Linked DNA regions of Homo sapiens: region 1 is linked to region 2. A link means that fine-mapping ties the variant in region 2 to the expression of a gene that starts in the linked region. Tissue or cell type: testis. Region 2 holds a variant in brackets; the other region holds the start of a gene. All regions are shown on one strand. Distances are from middle to middle.

What was found. PIP is the estimated chance that this variant, and not a neighbour inherited with it, causes the effect. A credible set is the group of variants that fine-mapping cannot tell apart.
Region 1: it holds the start of LINC01566, and the variant in region 2 is the best candidate, but not a certain one, in a credible set for the expression of LINC01566 in testis (GTEx, PIP 0.57).

What each region holds. Positions count from the first base shown.
Region 1 is chr16:35,359,704-35,368,047 of GRCh38, reverse strand. It overlaps LINC01566 (long intergenic non-protein coding RNA 1566), which reads right to left and starts at 4,632. Exons shown (of 7, transcript NR_027080.2): 1 at 4,520-4,632.
Region 2 is chr16:34,895,057-34,903,400 of GRCh38, reverse strand. No RefSeq gene overlaps it. Among named protein-coding and RNA genes, the nearest start is that of LINC02184, 81 kb to the left of the region's middle. The variant C/T (reference allele first, on the strand shown) is at 3,130.

The DNA of each region.
Region 1 (8,344 bases), 460 kb before region 2:
CAACTTTCCTGCCTGGACTCTGCCATCCGGGGAAATAGTAACATATCTCTGGGCCAATAACCTAGGTAATGTAACTCTCCCTTTCTGCCTGGGCCAGACCACAGGAGTCATTGTGAGATATCACTGGGCCCATCGCCTACATTATGTGACTCTTTCTATCTTGAGTTTGTTTACAGGAAGAATGATGACATGTCATTGGGACCATCACCTAGGTGACATGACTGTTTTCTTCCTGGAACATGTTTACAGGGTGGATTGTGACATATTGTTTTGCCTAGCACCCAGAAGATACAATTTTTATTGCCAGGACCCCACCCACAGGAAAAATATTGACATATCACCGGCCCAACACCTAGTTGATGTGAGTCTCCCTCCTAGTCTTTGCCCACAGGTGGGATTGTCACATATAATTAGGTTCAGCCCACAGGTATAATGAAGACTCTCTTATATGTGGACCCAGCCAATAGAAGAGATTTTGATTCTTATAGCTAGGCTGAGGGAAACAAGTAAGGATCCAGGTCTTCTACATGTAGAAAGGTCACATAACATTACAACACTCATGCATATTTTATAAAGCCCTTGGATAATATAGAGTGTGTCATATCAGGGCCCCGCACAGAGGTAAAATAGTGATTCAATAGGCACACCCAGATGACAATTAGCATTGTTTCCCTCACAAATTGACCAAACTTACTGGTGAGGTCCTAACTTTCATATGAGGACAAAATACACAGTTAGAATATTGATGGGCAAATGTGAATCTGGCCAAAGATCAGATGGTGAGTCATATCTATACCCAGCTTACAGGCCCAGTGATGACTCTTATACCTGCACCCAGCCAATAAGAGAGCTGTTGACTCTCACAGCTAGGCTTAAGCCAAAAAATAAAGTCCTGAGTTTTCTACTTTAAAAAAATAATAATAACAGGTGATTACCACACACACGCATATTGTGTAAAACCCTCAGATGGTACAGTGAATGTCTTAATAGTACCCAGCACAACACTGAGATTGTGACTATTGTATGAACACCCAGCTGACTGTTACAATTGTCACCCATACACATGGACAGAGCAGAATAATGAGTTCCTGAGCCTCACCGAAATATACAGTCCACTGTTGGAATTGTGCCTGTCACATGTGGATTGAACCACAGGAGGGATGTTGACCCATTTCTGTACCCAGGTCACAGGGGCATAAATGGTTTTCATAACTGGACCCAATAAACAAGAGAGATGTTGACGGTCATGCCTGGTCTTAGGACAGTGGGCATAATTATACATTTGAGGTTGTAACACATACCTAGGAAGGCACAAAAATCTCAAAGCAGATTGTGCACATATACCATGTAAAACCATCAGGTGGCACAGACTGTCATAACAGGAACCAGCAAACAGGTGAGATTGTGACTCTCATATGCACACCTGGCTGACATATGTGAATTCTCACCCTCCCACAAAAACCCAGCCTACTTACAACATTCTGAATCTCACATTCAGAGGCAGTCAAAAGTTAGAACTGTGACTCTCACACATGGATGCAGTCCACAGGTAGGATGGTGACTCTCACACCAAGATTCAGAACGCCTGTGAGGCTGTTACTCCCCTACTGGGACACTGTCTGCAAGAGGAGTTCAGATTCTCATGCACTGATCAAGTCCACTGTTGAGGTTGTGACTCGAGTACTTGAACACATCTCACAAGATATGTTGACTGTCATAAGTGAAGCTGGGACATTAGTGGGATTTTGAATCTTATCCTGAAAACTTTCTTCTGGTGTGATTGTGATATATACCCTTTCCCAGCACCTGGTTGATTTTACTTTCTTGCCTGGGCCCAGTGTACAGTTGAGATTGTCACATACACCTGGACCATGCACTTTATTTATATGACTCTTCAGCATGAGCCCTGCCCTCAGGGGAAATTATGGTATATCTCTGGGGCAATCCTCAAAGTGAAGTGACTCTTCTTTCCTGCCCAGGCCCTGCCTTTAGTTGAGATTGTGACAGGCATATCACTGGGCCCTTAATGCAAATGATGTAACTTCTCTGCCTGGGTTCTAATTAGAGAAGGTATTGTGAAATCTCTCTGGGCCTATCACCTAGGTGATGTAACTCTGCCTTCCTGCCTGAACCTGCCCCCAAGAGGCATTGCGACGTATCACCAGGCCCAGCTCCCAGGTTATGTAACTGTCCTGCCTTGGCCCTGCCCACAGAGGGCATTTTGACACATTGCTATTTCCAGTACCTAGGTCATATGACCCTCCTGAATTGCTCTTGCTCCAAGGGGGGATTTTGACCTCTCACTGGGCCAATCACCTAGGTGTTGGGGCTCCTCTGCTGCCTAGATCCTGGCTAAAGTGGGAATTGTGACATATCTGTGGCCAGCATCCAGGTGATGTGACTCTGGTGCCTTGTCTCTCTCCACAATTGGAATTGTGAAATATACATAGGCACAGCTTACAGGTGGGATGATGACTCATACCTGAAAACATTTTGACTCTTGTAGTTAGTCTTATGGCAAAAATGAAGGTCCTGGGTCTTCAACTTGTAGGGTGGTCATGGAGTGTTTTGACCTTCGTGCACATTGTATAAAGCCATCAAGTGCTACAAAAAATGCCATAATGTAGTTCATCACATAGGTGAAAATGTGGCAGTTGTATGCACACCCAGCCACAAGTAAGGATTGTCACCCTCCGACATGAACAAAGCCCACTGTTGAGGTTCTGAATCACATGTCAAGAGGCCATAAAGTTGGAAATGTGAACCTCATAAATCAATCCAATCCACAGATGGGATGATAACTCCAAGACCAGGATTTAGAACACCTGGGGACTGTAATTTCCCTATTAAAACATAGTCTTCAGGTGAGATTTGGGCTTTTGTGTACTGATTTACTCCACTGTTGTGATTAACTTGCATACTTGGACTCAACCCACAAGACGGGTTGACTCTAATACCTTTAGCTGGAAAATGTCCAGGATTGTGAATTTCTCTTGTTGACTGGGCCCAGGTATAAGCTTTATTGCTGTGCCTGTGAGATGGGTTCAAAAATGAGTCACTATCTCACCTGTGGCTGCATCTATGTATGACAGTCACAATTCCAAATCTGTATTGCGTTTGCACATGAGATTTAGGACCTCACCACTGAGTACTGGCCATGTGTGAGGATGACAATTCTGTCAGCTGGATGTACATATGAGAGTCACAGCCTCACCTTTGTGTGGGTCCTGTTATGACACACTCTGTACCACCTGAGGGCTTTATACAATGTGCTTTGGTGTCATAATACACTATGACCTTTGTTAAAGTAAGAGACCAAGGACCATGACTGTTGCCCTAACCCTAGCTATGAGGGTCAAAATCTCTTCTCTTAGCTGGATCCCACGTATGACAGTCATCATTTCACTTTTAACCTGTGACTATATATATGTCACAATTTTACCTGTGAGCAGGGACCAGTCACAAAAGTTTAATCACCTGGGTGCTGGGTCAGCTATATGTCACAATTCTTACTTTGGCCAGAGCCCAGGCAACAGAGCAGAAACACATCACCCACATGATTGGCCCAGTGATGGGTCACAATCCTCTCTGGGAGCAGGGCCCATTCAGGAGAGTCATATCACCCAGCTGCTTGGCCAAGAAATATGTCACAATCCCCCCTGTGCACAGAGCCAAGGCAGGATAGTTACATCACCTGGGAGCTGGGCCCAACAATATGTCCCAATTACTCTTGGGGAAAGTGTCCAGGCAGAAGAGCAGAACCACATCACCTAGGTGATGGGCCCAGAGATATGCCACAATTTCTTCTGTGGGCTGGGCCCTGGGATAAGAATAACATCACCTGGTGCTGGACCCAGCAATATGTTACAATCCCAACTGTAAAAAGTTTCCAGGCAATAGAGGAGAGTCACATCACCTATGTGACTGGCCCAAAGATATGTAATAATATTCCCTTTGGGGAGTGCCAAGGAAGGAGTGTCTCAACTCCTCCGTGCTCAGCCCAAAGATATGACACAAAACACACTGCAGGGAGGGCCCAAGTAGGAGATAAGAGTCCTATTAACTAGGGGTTTAGCCAAGCAATATGTAAAAATTATTCCTGTTGGCAGATCCCAGCCCCCCATCCAAAAGAATCAAATCACTTGGGTGGTGCTTCCCATGAAAATCACAAGCCCTTTTGAGTGCAAAGCCCATGAAGCAGAGGCGATTCACATTACCTAGGTGATGATCCCAAAGATATTTCACAATGCTGTCTGTGGGGAGAGTCCAGGGAGACAAGTCACCTCACTTGAGTGCTGGGCTCAGAAAATGTCACAATCTTCTCTGATGGAAGAGCCCAGAAAAGAAGGAAGAGCCGCATCACCTAGGTGTTGAACCCACTGATGTGTCGAAATCTCTATTCTGAGCAGAGTCCAGGCAAGTGAGGAGAGTCACATCTTTTAGGTGATTGGTCCAGAGATATTTCTCAATGCCCCCTGTGCACATGGCCTAGACAGAAGACACACATAAGCAAGATTACCTTGTTGCTTAGCCCAGTGATGTCACAATGCTTCTTGAGGGCAGGGCACAAACAGGATCAGAGAGTCACATCATTAAGTACCAGGCTTAGTGATATGTTATAACCTTACCTGTGAGCAGGGTCTAAGTAGGGGAAAAGATTTATATCACCTAGGTGCAAAGTAGAGAGATACATCACAATTCCTTTGAAGGAAGTGTCTAGGCAAAATAGTCACATCACCTAGGTGTTTATTCCAGGTATAAGTCACAAGATATATCTGTGCTGAGCCCAGAAGCACTGTGAAATCACTAAGGTTCTAGTTGTATGTCACAATTATACCTGTGGGAAGGCCCAGTAATGAGACCTCCAAATCCAAACATTTCTCCACTCCAGGTAGAACTCCTGTTGCGTTGGGTCCAAGTACTTGAGTCACAATCTCAACAGTGGACTGCATCCTCACATGAGAGCCCCAATCCCTTCTCCAAGCTATGTCCTGGTAAGGGAGTCACAGCCTCAATGCTGTGCTGAATCTTGGTGAGAGAGTCACCATTTCGCCTGTGGACTGGATCCACCTGTGAGAGTCACAACTCCAACTTCCCCCTGCCCATGGGTGTGAGCTTAGAACCTCAGTTGTGGGTTATGTACATGTGGGCATGTGACAATTTCTACTTTTGGTTCTGTGGCCATACAGATCTCTATATCTCACCTGTGAACTGGGTCCTGTTATGACACTCTCTGTACCACTCAAGGGGTATATTCAACACACATGGGTTTTATAATCCTTTGACCTTCATAAAAGTAGAAGATCCAGGACTTTACCCATTGCTTGAAGCCTAGCTATGAGAGTCAAAATCTCTCCTTTTGGCTTGGCTCATGTATAAGATTTATCATAGTGCCTGTGAGCTGGGCCAAAATGTATATCACCTTCTCAACTGTGGAGATCCACAGGCAGATACAGTGTCATGTGAGATAGGAGGACGACTGAGATGTTCTCTGTGAGGGTGTAATTGTTATTGTCCTGGGGCTGTTTCTAGATATTTTCAAATAAAATAAATTCAGAGACTTTAACCTAAAGAAGTATTGCAATGGTGGAAGCATCAAGCATAATATCTGCAAACATCTAAAATACTAGGCAGAAAAGAGCTGTCTTTGAAATGGAGGAGCAAGGTATATTAGAAAGAAGGGTGGGAGAGGAAGGGCCCCATGGAGAGTGACAAAATCCTTCAAGATTAGAGATGGTTTCACCCTGAAATCAGCCTGTTCTTGGGAGGGGCATAAAAGGGGTTGTATGGTTATATGTTTACTCAGACTGAAGACGGAGCAGAGGCCAGGGTCCCGGGGGAAAAAAGAAACAAGCAACCTGTGCCTAACAAGTATTTTCTTCTGAACTCTGAAGACAAAAGTATTTAATTGTTTATGAGGAGCAAATGGGAATGTGGAGAATCTATGAATCTGTGATATCTAAAACAGGATGTACCATCTAGGTAACAATGGTAAAGGTGTTTCTCTGCAGTAAGTTTTCTCACAGAACACAAAGAATTAGAGAGTTTTCTTAAATGTCACTATTTACCAGGACTCACTACCCACCCTGTCTTTCTTTTATGCTTTTCTTTGCTGTATCCATTTTTTGCATTTGGCTTTTTCTGAACTGTATTTATTATAATAACCTGGCAAGCATAGGTGAAATGTTTTGCCAAGTTCTGTGAGTAGTTTTATTAATTATTAAACTTCATGAAAAGGGTTATGGGAGCTTATGATTTATAGATAGATGCTCAGAAGCATAGACGTGCCCATGTTCGTTGTGACAGGCATGTGCAGTGGGGATGGTGCTGTGGGACTGAGTCCTGAACTTGTGGAGTCTATGCCAACTCTGGGTGGTGTCAGAATTAAGATGTTAAACTCCCAGTTGGTGTTGATGAATTGGTTGGTGTTCAACAAACTCCATGTATTTGGTGTTAGAACAAAGACATCACAGCAGCCTCGGCTGGAGGTATACTGTGGGTCTTTTGGGGAATAAAGACTCTATTCTTTTACACACATGCTGTCACAGTGTGAATTGTCTTGTGACAATAGGTCCCATCTAGGGGTCAGAGGGAACTGAGGATTAAAAGGGATGGAGTTCTGAAGGAAGACTCCTCTCCTCACCCTGCTGCTATAAAGTGATTCCTGCACACTCACACACATACACACTAGGCAATGATGTAGATACACCCCTCCCATGACAAGGCATCACCCTGAGAAACTGTGCTGACAGAACCTCTCCTTCTAGAGTTTTCCACTAATATGCTACATAAGTGCCCAGTGGACTCATGGCTTACTTCTATGCCCAGATCTTGCATCTGCACCGTGACCTATTTTCTCCAGTAGCCTAGGCTTCTCGACCCTCTGTCCATCTCATCTGCCTGCATACACACATTTAGAAATCAGAGTTACCCTGTGTGTGCCAGTGTCTATAGCACTAACCAGTCCTTTCACCAACTATGCACTGTTCCCTACTCATGGGTTTTTTTGTATCACTTTCTCTTAGTCTGCTTTTTTCTTCTCCACAAACCCTCTTTCACAAACCCATGTGCCTAAATACAAACCCTACTGGAAATAGAATGTCTAAGAGTTCAGGATAAAATTTTGCAACCAGTTTATTGTAAGCATAAACACAAAATAAAAATAAGAGATTTAATCTTTCAATTTGAAAATAAAAAAGAAAATTTTCTCATTTTTTAAATTATTTAATTTAGATAACTTTCATATGTAAATTATTATCTGCTTTTATGTTTTTTGTTGTCTTTCAAGTTTTTATTGAATCTCTGTTCTTTTTTTATTATTTTGTGTATTGTGTTAACATTGAGAGTAATTAGTTTTTTTCAAGGTTTTTGCAAATCAAAGTCATGCTGCTTATTTGAGATCTTTCTTTCTTCTTATTATAGAAATATATCAGTGTTACCTTTTGTCTTAGAACTGCTTTTTTGCATCCCAGAAGTTGTTGTATGTTGTGTTTTTATTTCTACTTTTCTCAAGATACTTTGTGATTTCTTTTTTCTTTTCCCCTTTGACCATGTGTTTTTCAGAAATATGTTGTTTAATATCCACATATTTGTGAGTTTTTAAATTTTTTTCTCTTATTGATCTCTAGTTTTAAAAAACTGTAATTTAAAAAGTTCATTAATTTTAATCTTTTTAAATTTTTAGAGATTTTCTTGTTGTTGTTGGCCCAACATACGATATATCCTGGATAATATTCCATGTGTGCTCAAGAAGAATGTGTATTCAAATACTGTTGAATGAAATATTCTGTTTATCACTGTTAGGTGCACTTGTTCTATAGTGCTTTGCAAGTACATTGTTTTCTTACTACTTAAAACGTTTTAAGTAGAGTAATAGCATCTTCTATTACGATAATAATTATGTTTTTTTCTACAGTCATATATAAAATACATTCTTATATAAATATTATATAGACATACTATTATTATATTATATACATATATACATATGTTTATATATTTATGTGCTCCAATGTTGGGTTCATATATAGTTATAGCCTTTTGACAGATCAGCTTGTTATCATTATATAGTCAACTTCTCTATATCTCCTGACAGATTTTTTTCTAGAAGTCTATTTTGTCTTATATAAATATAGCCACTAATATACTCTTTTAGTTATTATTGGCATAGTATTTTTTTATTATTTAACCAGCAACTTATGCATGCCCTTAAATCTAAAAAATTTCTTATGTAAAATATACTGGTAAATTTGTTAATCTCTTTAGACATTTGTGAATGTTTCAGTTCATTTTCTGCTTCAAAAACAGAATATCCTAGAGTGGGTAAACTATAAAGAATAGAAGT
Region 2 (8,344 bases):
TGAATAGAATGGAATCATCATTGAATGGAATTGAATGGAATCATCTATTGCACTGCAATAGAAACATCATTGAATGGAAACATCTAGTGGACCGGAATGGAATCATGATTGAATGGAATCAAATGGAAACAACGAATGGACACGAATGGAATCATCATCGAATATAATTAAAACAATTATCAAAAGGATTCAAATGGAAACATTGAATGGACTCAAATGGAATCATCATCGAATGAAATCAAATGGAAACATCATCGAATGGAATTGAATGGAATCATCATCAAATGGAATTGAACAGAATCATCATCAAATGGAATGGAATGGAATCATCGAATGGATTTGAATGGAATCATCATCGAATGGAATCGAATCTAATCTTTGATTGGACTTGAACGGAATCATCAACGAATGGAATCGAATCTAATCTTTGATTGGACTCGAATGGAATCATCATCAAATGGAATCGAATCTAATCTTTGATTGGACTCGAACGGAATCATGATCAAATGGAATCAAATGTAATCTTCGAACGCACTCAGATGGAGTAATCGTCAAATGCAATCAAAGGGAATCATCATAGAATTCAATTGAATGGAATCGTCATCCAATGGAATCGAATGGAAGCCTCGAATGGATTAGAATTGAATCAACATCGAATGGAATCGAATAGAATCATCAAATGAAATCGAATGGAATCATCATCGAATGGAATCGAATGGAATCATCATCAAATGGAATCAAATCGAATCATCATCGAATGGAATCATATTGAATCATCAAAGAATGGAATCAAATGGAATCATCATTGACAGGATTCGAATGGAATAATCAAGAAATGGAATCGAATGGAATCATTGAATGGAATCCAATGTAATCATCATCGAATGGAATCCAATGTAATCATCATCGAATTGAACCCAATAGAATCATTACATTGAGTCGAATGCAACCATCGAATGGACTCAAATGTAATCATCAATGAATGGAATAGAATGGAATCAACGAATGGAACTGAATGGAATCATCATAGAATGAAATCAAATGAAATCATCGAATGGTCTCAATTGGTATCATCATCAAATGGAATCAAAAGGAATCAACGAATGGACTTGAATGGAATCACTGAATGGACTCGAAAGGAATCATCATCGAATGGAATCAAATGGAATCACCACCGAATGGAATTGAATGGTATCATCGAATCGACTCTAATGGAATCATCATCAAATGGAATCGAATGGAATTATCGAATGGACTCGAAAGGAATCATCACCAAATGGAATCGAATGGAATCATCGAATAGAATCAAATGTAATAATCATCAAATGAAATTGCAATAAATCATGGAATGGACACGAATGGAGTCATCATTGAATGGAATCGAATGGAATCATGAAACAGACTCATATGGATTAATCATCTAATGGAATGGAAAGGAATAATCAAATGAAATCAATGGAATCTTCATCGATTGAGATCAAATGGAATAATTGAATGGCACTGAATGGAATCATCATCGAATGGAATCAAATGGAACCATCTAATGGACACAAAAGGAATAATCATTGAATGGAATCGAATGGAAACATCGAATGGACACAAATGAATTCATCACCGAATGGAATCGAATGGAATCACTAAGAAATCAAATCGAATAGAATCGTCATTGAATGGAATCGAATGGAATCATCGCACAGAAGATAATGGAATCATCATCGAATGGAATCAAATAAAATCATCGAATGAAATCAAATGGAATCATCATCGAATAGAATCAAATGGAATCATCATCAAAAGTAATTGAATGGAATCATCGTCGAATGTAATTGAATGGAATCACCATTTAAAGGAATCGAATGGATTCATCATCAAATGGAACCGAACAGAGTCATCATCAAACGGAATTGAATGGAATCGTAATCGAATGGAATCATCAAATGGACACGAATGCAATCATTGACTGTGCTTCAATGGAATCATCATGGAATGGAATCGAATGGAATCATCGAATGGGCTCGAATGGAATCATCATCGAATGGAAACAGATGGAATTATAGAATGGACTTGAATGGAATTATTGAATGGAATCGAATGGAATCATCATTGAATGGAATTGAATGGAATCATCGAAAGGACTCGAATGGAATAATCATCGAACGGAATTGAATGGAATCATCGAATGATCTCAAATGGAATCATCATCAAATGCAATCAAAAGGAAACATCAAATGGACTTGAGTGGAATCATTGAATGGACTCGAATGGAATCATCATTGAATGGAATCGAATGGAATCATGAAATGGAAACGAATGCAATCACCATCAGATGGAATTGAATAGAATCATCATTGAATAGAATGGAATGGAATCCTTATCGAATGGAATCTAATGAAGTCATCATCGAATGGAATCTAGTGGAGTCATCATCTAAAGGAATCGAATGGAATCAGCAAGGAATGGAATCGAATGGAGAAATCGAATGTAATCCGTTGGAATCATCATTGAATGAAACCGAATGCAGTCATCAGAGAATGGAAACGAATGGAGTCAATGAAGGGACTCGAATGGAATCATCATTGAATTGAATCGTATGGAATCATCGAATGGACTCGAATGGAATCATCGAATGTACTCAAATGGAAACAACATCGAATGGAATCGAATGGAATCATCGAATGGAAACGAATGCAATCATCATTGAATGGAATCAAATGGAATCGAACGGAATCATAGAATGGACTCTAATGGAATCATCATGGAATGGAATTGAACAGAATCATCAAATGGACTCGAATGGAATCATTGAATGGAATTGAACACAATCAACATAGAATGGAATTGAATGGAATCATCATCGAATAGAATCAAATTGAATCATCGAATAGAATTGAATAGAGTCATCGTCAGGTTTAATCGAGTGGAATGATCTAATGGAATCTAGTGGAATCATTGTCGATTGGAATGGAATGGAATCAATGAATGGAAATGAATGGAATCACCAATTAATGGAATTGAATGGAATCATCATCGAATGGAATTGAATGAAATCATTGAATGGACTAGAATGCAATCATCATTGAATGGAATCACATGGAATCATCATCGAATGGAATCATATGGAATCATCAT[C/T]AATTGGAATTGAATGGAATGAAAAATTGGACTTGAAAGGAATCACCAAATGTACTCGAATGGAAGCATCAAATGGACTCGAATGGAATCATCATTGAATTGAATCGTATGGAATCATCGAATGGACTCGAATGGAATCATCTAATGGACTAGAATGGAATAATCATCGAATAGAATTGAATGGAATCATGGAATGGACTCGAATGGAATCATCATCAGATGGAATCGAATGGAATCATTGAATAGTATCGAATGTAACCATCATAAAATAAAATTGCATTGAATCTTCGAATGGACACGAATGGAGTCACCATCGAATGGAATCGAATGGAATCATCGAATGGACTCGAATGGAATAATCATCAAATGGAATGGAAAGGAATAATCAAAAAGAAATCAATGGAATCATCATTGAATGAAATCAAATGGAATAATCGAATGGCACCGAATGGAATCATCATCGAATGGAATCAAATGGAATCATCTAACGGACTCGAATGGAATAATCATCAATTGGAATCGAATGGAAATATCGAATGGACACAAATGGAATCATCACTGAATGGAATAGAATGGAATCATCATCAAATGGCATCGAATAGAATCATCGTCGAATGGAATTGAATGGAATCATTGAAGGGAATAGAATGGAATCATCATCGAATGGACTCAAATGGAATCATCAAAAGAAATCAAATGGAATCATCATCGAATGGACTACAATGGAATCATCATCGAATGGAATCCAATGGAATCATCATCGAATGTAACTGAATGAAATCATCATTGAAAGGAATCGAATGGATTCATCATCAAATGGAACCGAACAGAGTCATCATTGAATGGAATTGAATGGAATCATAATCAAATGGAATCGAATGGAATCATCAAATGAACTCGAATGCAGTCATCGACTGGGCTTCAATGGAATCATCATGGAATGGAATCGAATGGAATCATCAAATTGACGCAAATGGAATCATAATCAAATAAAATCAAATGTAATTATCGAATTGACACCAATGGAATCATCATTGAATGGAATCGAATGAAATCATCATCGAATGGAATCCAATGGAATCATCAAATGGAATAAAATGGAGTCATCATCGAATGACATCGAATGGAAACATCGATTGGATTAGAATGGAGTCATCATCGAATGGAAACGAACAGAATCATCGAATGAAATCAAATGGAATCATCATCGAATGGAGTCGAATGAAATCATCATCGAAAGGAATCCAATGGAAACACGAATGAAGGGAATCAGATGGAATCATCATCGAATGGAATCAAATGGAATCATGAAGGAATGGAATAGAATGGAATCATCGAATGGACTCGAATGGAATCACTATCAAATGGAAACGAATGGAATCGAATGGAATCATTGAATGGACTCGAATGGAATCATCATCAAATGGAATAGGATGGTATCATCGAATGGACCCAAATGGAATCATCGAATGGACGCGGATGGAATCATCGAATGGAATCAAACAGAATCATCAACGAATGGAATCGAATGGAATCATAGAATGGAATCCAATGTAGTCATCTTTGAATTGAACCCAACAGAATCATGAAATGGACTCGAATGGAATCATCAAATGGGCTTAAATGGAGACATCATCGAATGGAATAGAATGGAATCATCAAATGCAATTGAATTGAATCATCGAATGTACTTGAATGGAATCATCATCAAATGGAATCAAATGGAATCATGGAATGGACTCGAATGGAATCATCATCGAATGGAATTGAAGGGAATCATCAAATGGACTTGAATGGAATCATTGAATGGAATCAAATGGAATCATCATTGAATGAAATTGAATGGAATCATTGAATTTACTCGAATGGAATAATCATCAATTGGAACCAAATGGAATCATCGAATGGAATCGAATGGAATCATCATTGAATGGAATCGCATGGATTCATCTTCGAATGGAATCAAATGAAATCATCATTGAATGGAACCTAATGGAATCATCATGTAATGGAACCGAATGGAATCATCAACGAATGGAATCAAATGGAGAAATCGAGTAGAATCCTTTGGAATCATCATCGAATGGAACCGAATGCAGTCGTCATCAAATGGAATCAAATGGAATCATCAGCGAATGGAATCGAAAGGAATCATCATGGAATAGAATCAAATGGAATCATCGAATGGAAGGGAATGGAATCATCATGGAAAGGAATCAAAGGGAATCATTGAATAGAATCGAACGGAAACATTGAATGGAATCAAAGGGAATGATCATCGAATGGACTCAAATGGAATTATCAAAAGGAATCGAATGGAATCATCGATTGGACTCTAATGGAATAATCGGATGGACTCCAATGTAATCATCAAATGTAATCGCATGGAATAATTGAATGGACTCTAATGGAATCATCATCAAATGAAATTGGATGGAATCAACAAAGGGACTCGAATGGAATGATCGAATGGACTCGAACGGAATCATCATTGAATGGAATTCAATGAAATCATCGAATGGACTCAAATGGAATCATCATCGAATGGAGTCGAATAGGATCATCATGAAATGGAATCGAATTGGTTCATCATCAAAAGAAATCCAATGGATTCACTGAATGGATTCGAATGTAATGATCAAATGGACTCGAATGGAATCATCAAATGGAATCGAATGGAATAATCGACTGGACTCGAATGGAATTATCGAATAGACTTGAATGGAGTCATCAAATGGATTTTAATGGATTCATAAAATGGAATCATATGGAATCATCAAATGGACTCGAATGTAATCATTGCATGGACTTGAATGAAGTCATCGAATGGATTCGAATGGAATTATCATCCAATGGAATTGATTGGAATCCTCGAATAGAATCAGATGGAATCATCAAATAGAATCAAAATGAATCATCATCGAATGGAAACGAATGGAATCATAGAATGGAATCGAAGGCAATCATGATAGAATGGAATCAAATGGAATCATAGAATGGAATCAAATGGAATCATCATCAAGTGGAATCGAGTGGAATCATCGAATGGAATCGAATGGAATCACTGTCAAATGGAATGGAATTGAATCAATGAATGGAAATGTATGGAATCACCAATGAATGGAATAGAATGGAATAATCATTGAATGGAATCGAAAGGAATCATCGAATGGACTCGAAGAGTATCATCATCAAATGGAATCGTGTGGAATCATCTAATGGGCACGAATAGAATCATCATTGAATGGAATCAAATGGAATCATCTAATGTACTCGAATGGAATCATCATTGAATGGAATAGAATGGAAACATCAAATGGAATCGAATGGAATCATCATCGTATGGAATCGAGTGGAATCAACAAATGGACTCGAATGTAATCATCGGAGAATGGAATCAAATAGAATCATCAAATGGACTCGAATGGAATCATCATCAAATGGACTCGAATGGAATCAAGGAATGGACTTGAATTGAATGACCATTGAATGGAATCGAATGGAATCATCATCGAATGAAATCGAATGGAATCATTGAATGGACTCGAATGCCATCATCATTGAATGGAATCGAATGTAATCGAATGTAAGCATTGAATGGACTCGAATGGAATCATCATTGAATGAAATTGAAAGGAATCATCTAACAGAATCGAATGGAACCATCAAACGGCATCGAATGGTATCATCATTGAATGGAATCATCGAATGGAATCGAATGGAATCATTATCAAATGAAATTGATGGGAATCATCAAATGGCATCAAAAGGAATCATCATCCAATGGAATCAAATGGATTCATCTAACGGACTCATTTGGAATCATCATTCAATAGAATTAAGTGGAATCATCGAATGGACATGAATGGAATCGTTATCAAATGGAATCAAATGGAATCATCATCAAATGGAGTCGAATAGAATCATCATAGAATGGAATGGAATGGAGTCATCTAATGGAATAGAATGGAATCATCATCGAATGGAATCAAATAGAATCATCTAACGAAATCAAATGGAAGCATCATCGAATGGAATCGAAAGGAATCATGATCGAATGGAATTGAACGGAATCATCATCAAATGGAATCGAATGGAATCATTCAATGGAATTGAATGGAATCATCATCGAATGAAATGAAATGGAATCATCGAATGGACTCGAATGGAATCATCATTGAATGGAATCGAATACAATCATCGAATGGACTTGAATGGAATCATCATCGAATGGACTCAAAAAGAATTATCAAATGGACTCGAATTGAATCATCATCGAATGAACTCAAATGGAATGATCGAATGGACTCGAATGGAATCATGGATTGGACTCAAATGGAATTATCAAATGTGCTCGAATGGAAACATTGAATGGACTCGAATGGAATCATTATCAAATGGAATCAAATGGAATAATCGAATGGATTCGAATGGAATCATCTAACGTAATCGATCACAATCATTATCGAATGGAATCAAATGTAATGATCAAATGGAATCGAATGAAGTCATCATCGAATGGAATCGAATGGAATCATCATCGAATAGAATTGAATGGAATCATCGAATGGAATCGAAAGGAATCATCCTCAAATGTAATCGAATGGAATCAGTGAATGGAATCAAATGGAATAATCGAATGGAATTGAATGGAATCAGCATCGAATGATATCGAATGGAATCATCATCGAATAGAATTGAATGGAATCATTGAATGGAATCATCATCAAATGGAGTCAAATGGAATCATCAAATGGACTCGAATGGAATCATCATAGAATGGAATTGAATGGAATCATCGAGTGAAATCAAATGGATTCATTACTGAATGGGATCGAATGGTATCATGGAATGCACTTAAATGGAATCAGCAACGAATGGTATCGAATGGTATCATTGAATGGAATTGAATGGAATCATCTTCAATAGGAATCAAAAGGAATCACCGAATGGACTCGAATGGAATAAACATCGAAAGGAATCAAAAGGAATCATTGAATGGAATCGAATGGAATCATCATCAAGTGGAATCGAATGGAATCATCGAATGGAATCAAATGGAATCATCATCGAATGGAATACAATGGAATCATCATGGAATGGAATCCAACGGAATCATCATCGAATGTAACTGAATGATAACATCATTGAAAGGAATCGAATGGATTCATCATCAAATGGAACCGAACGGAGTCATCATCGAATAGAATCGCAT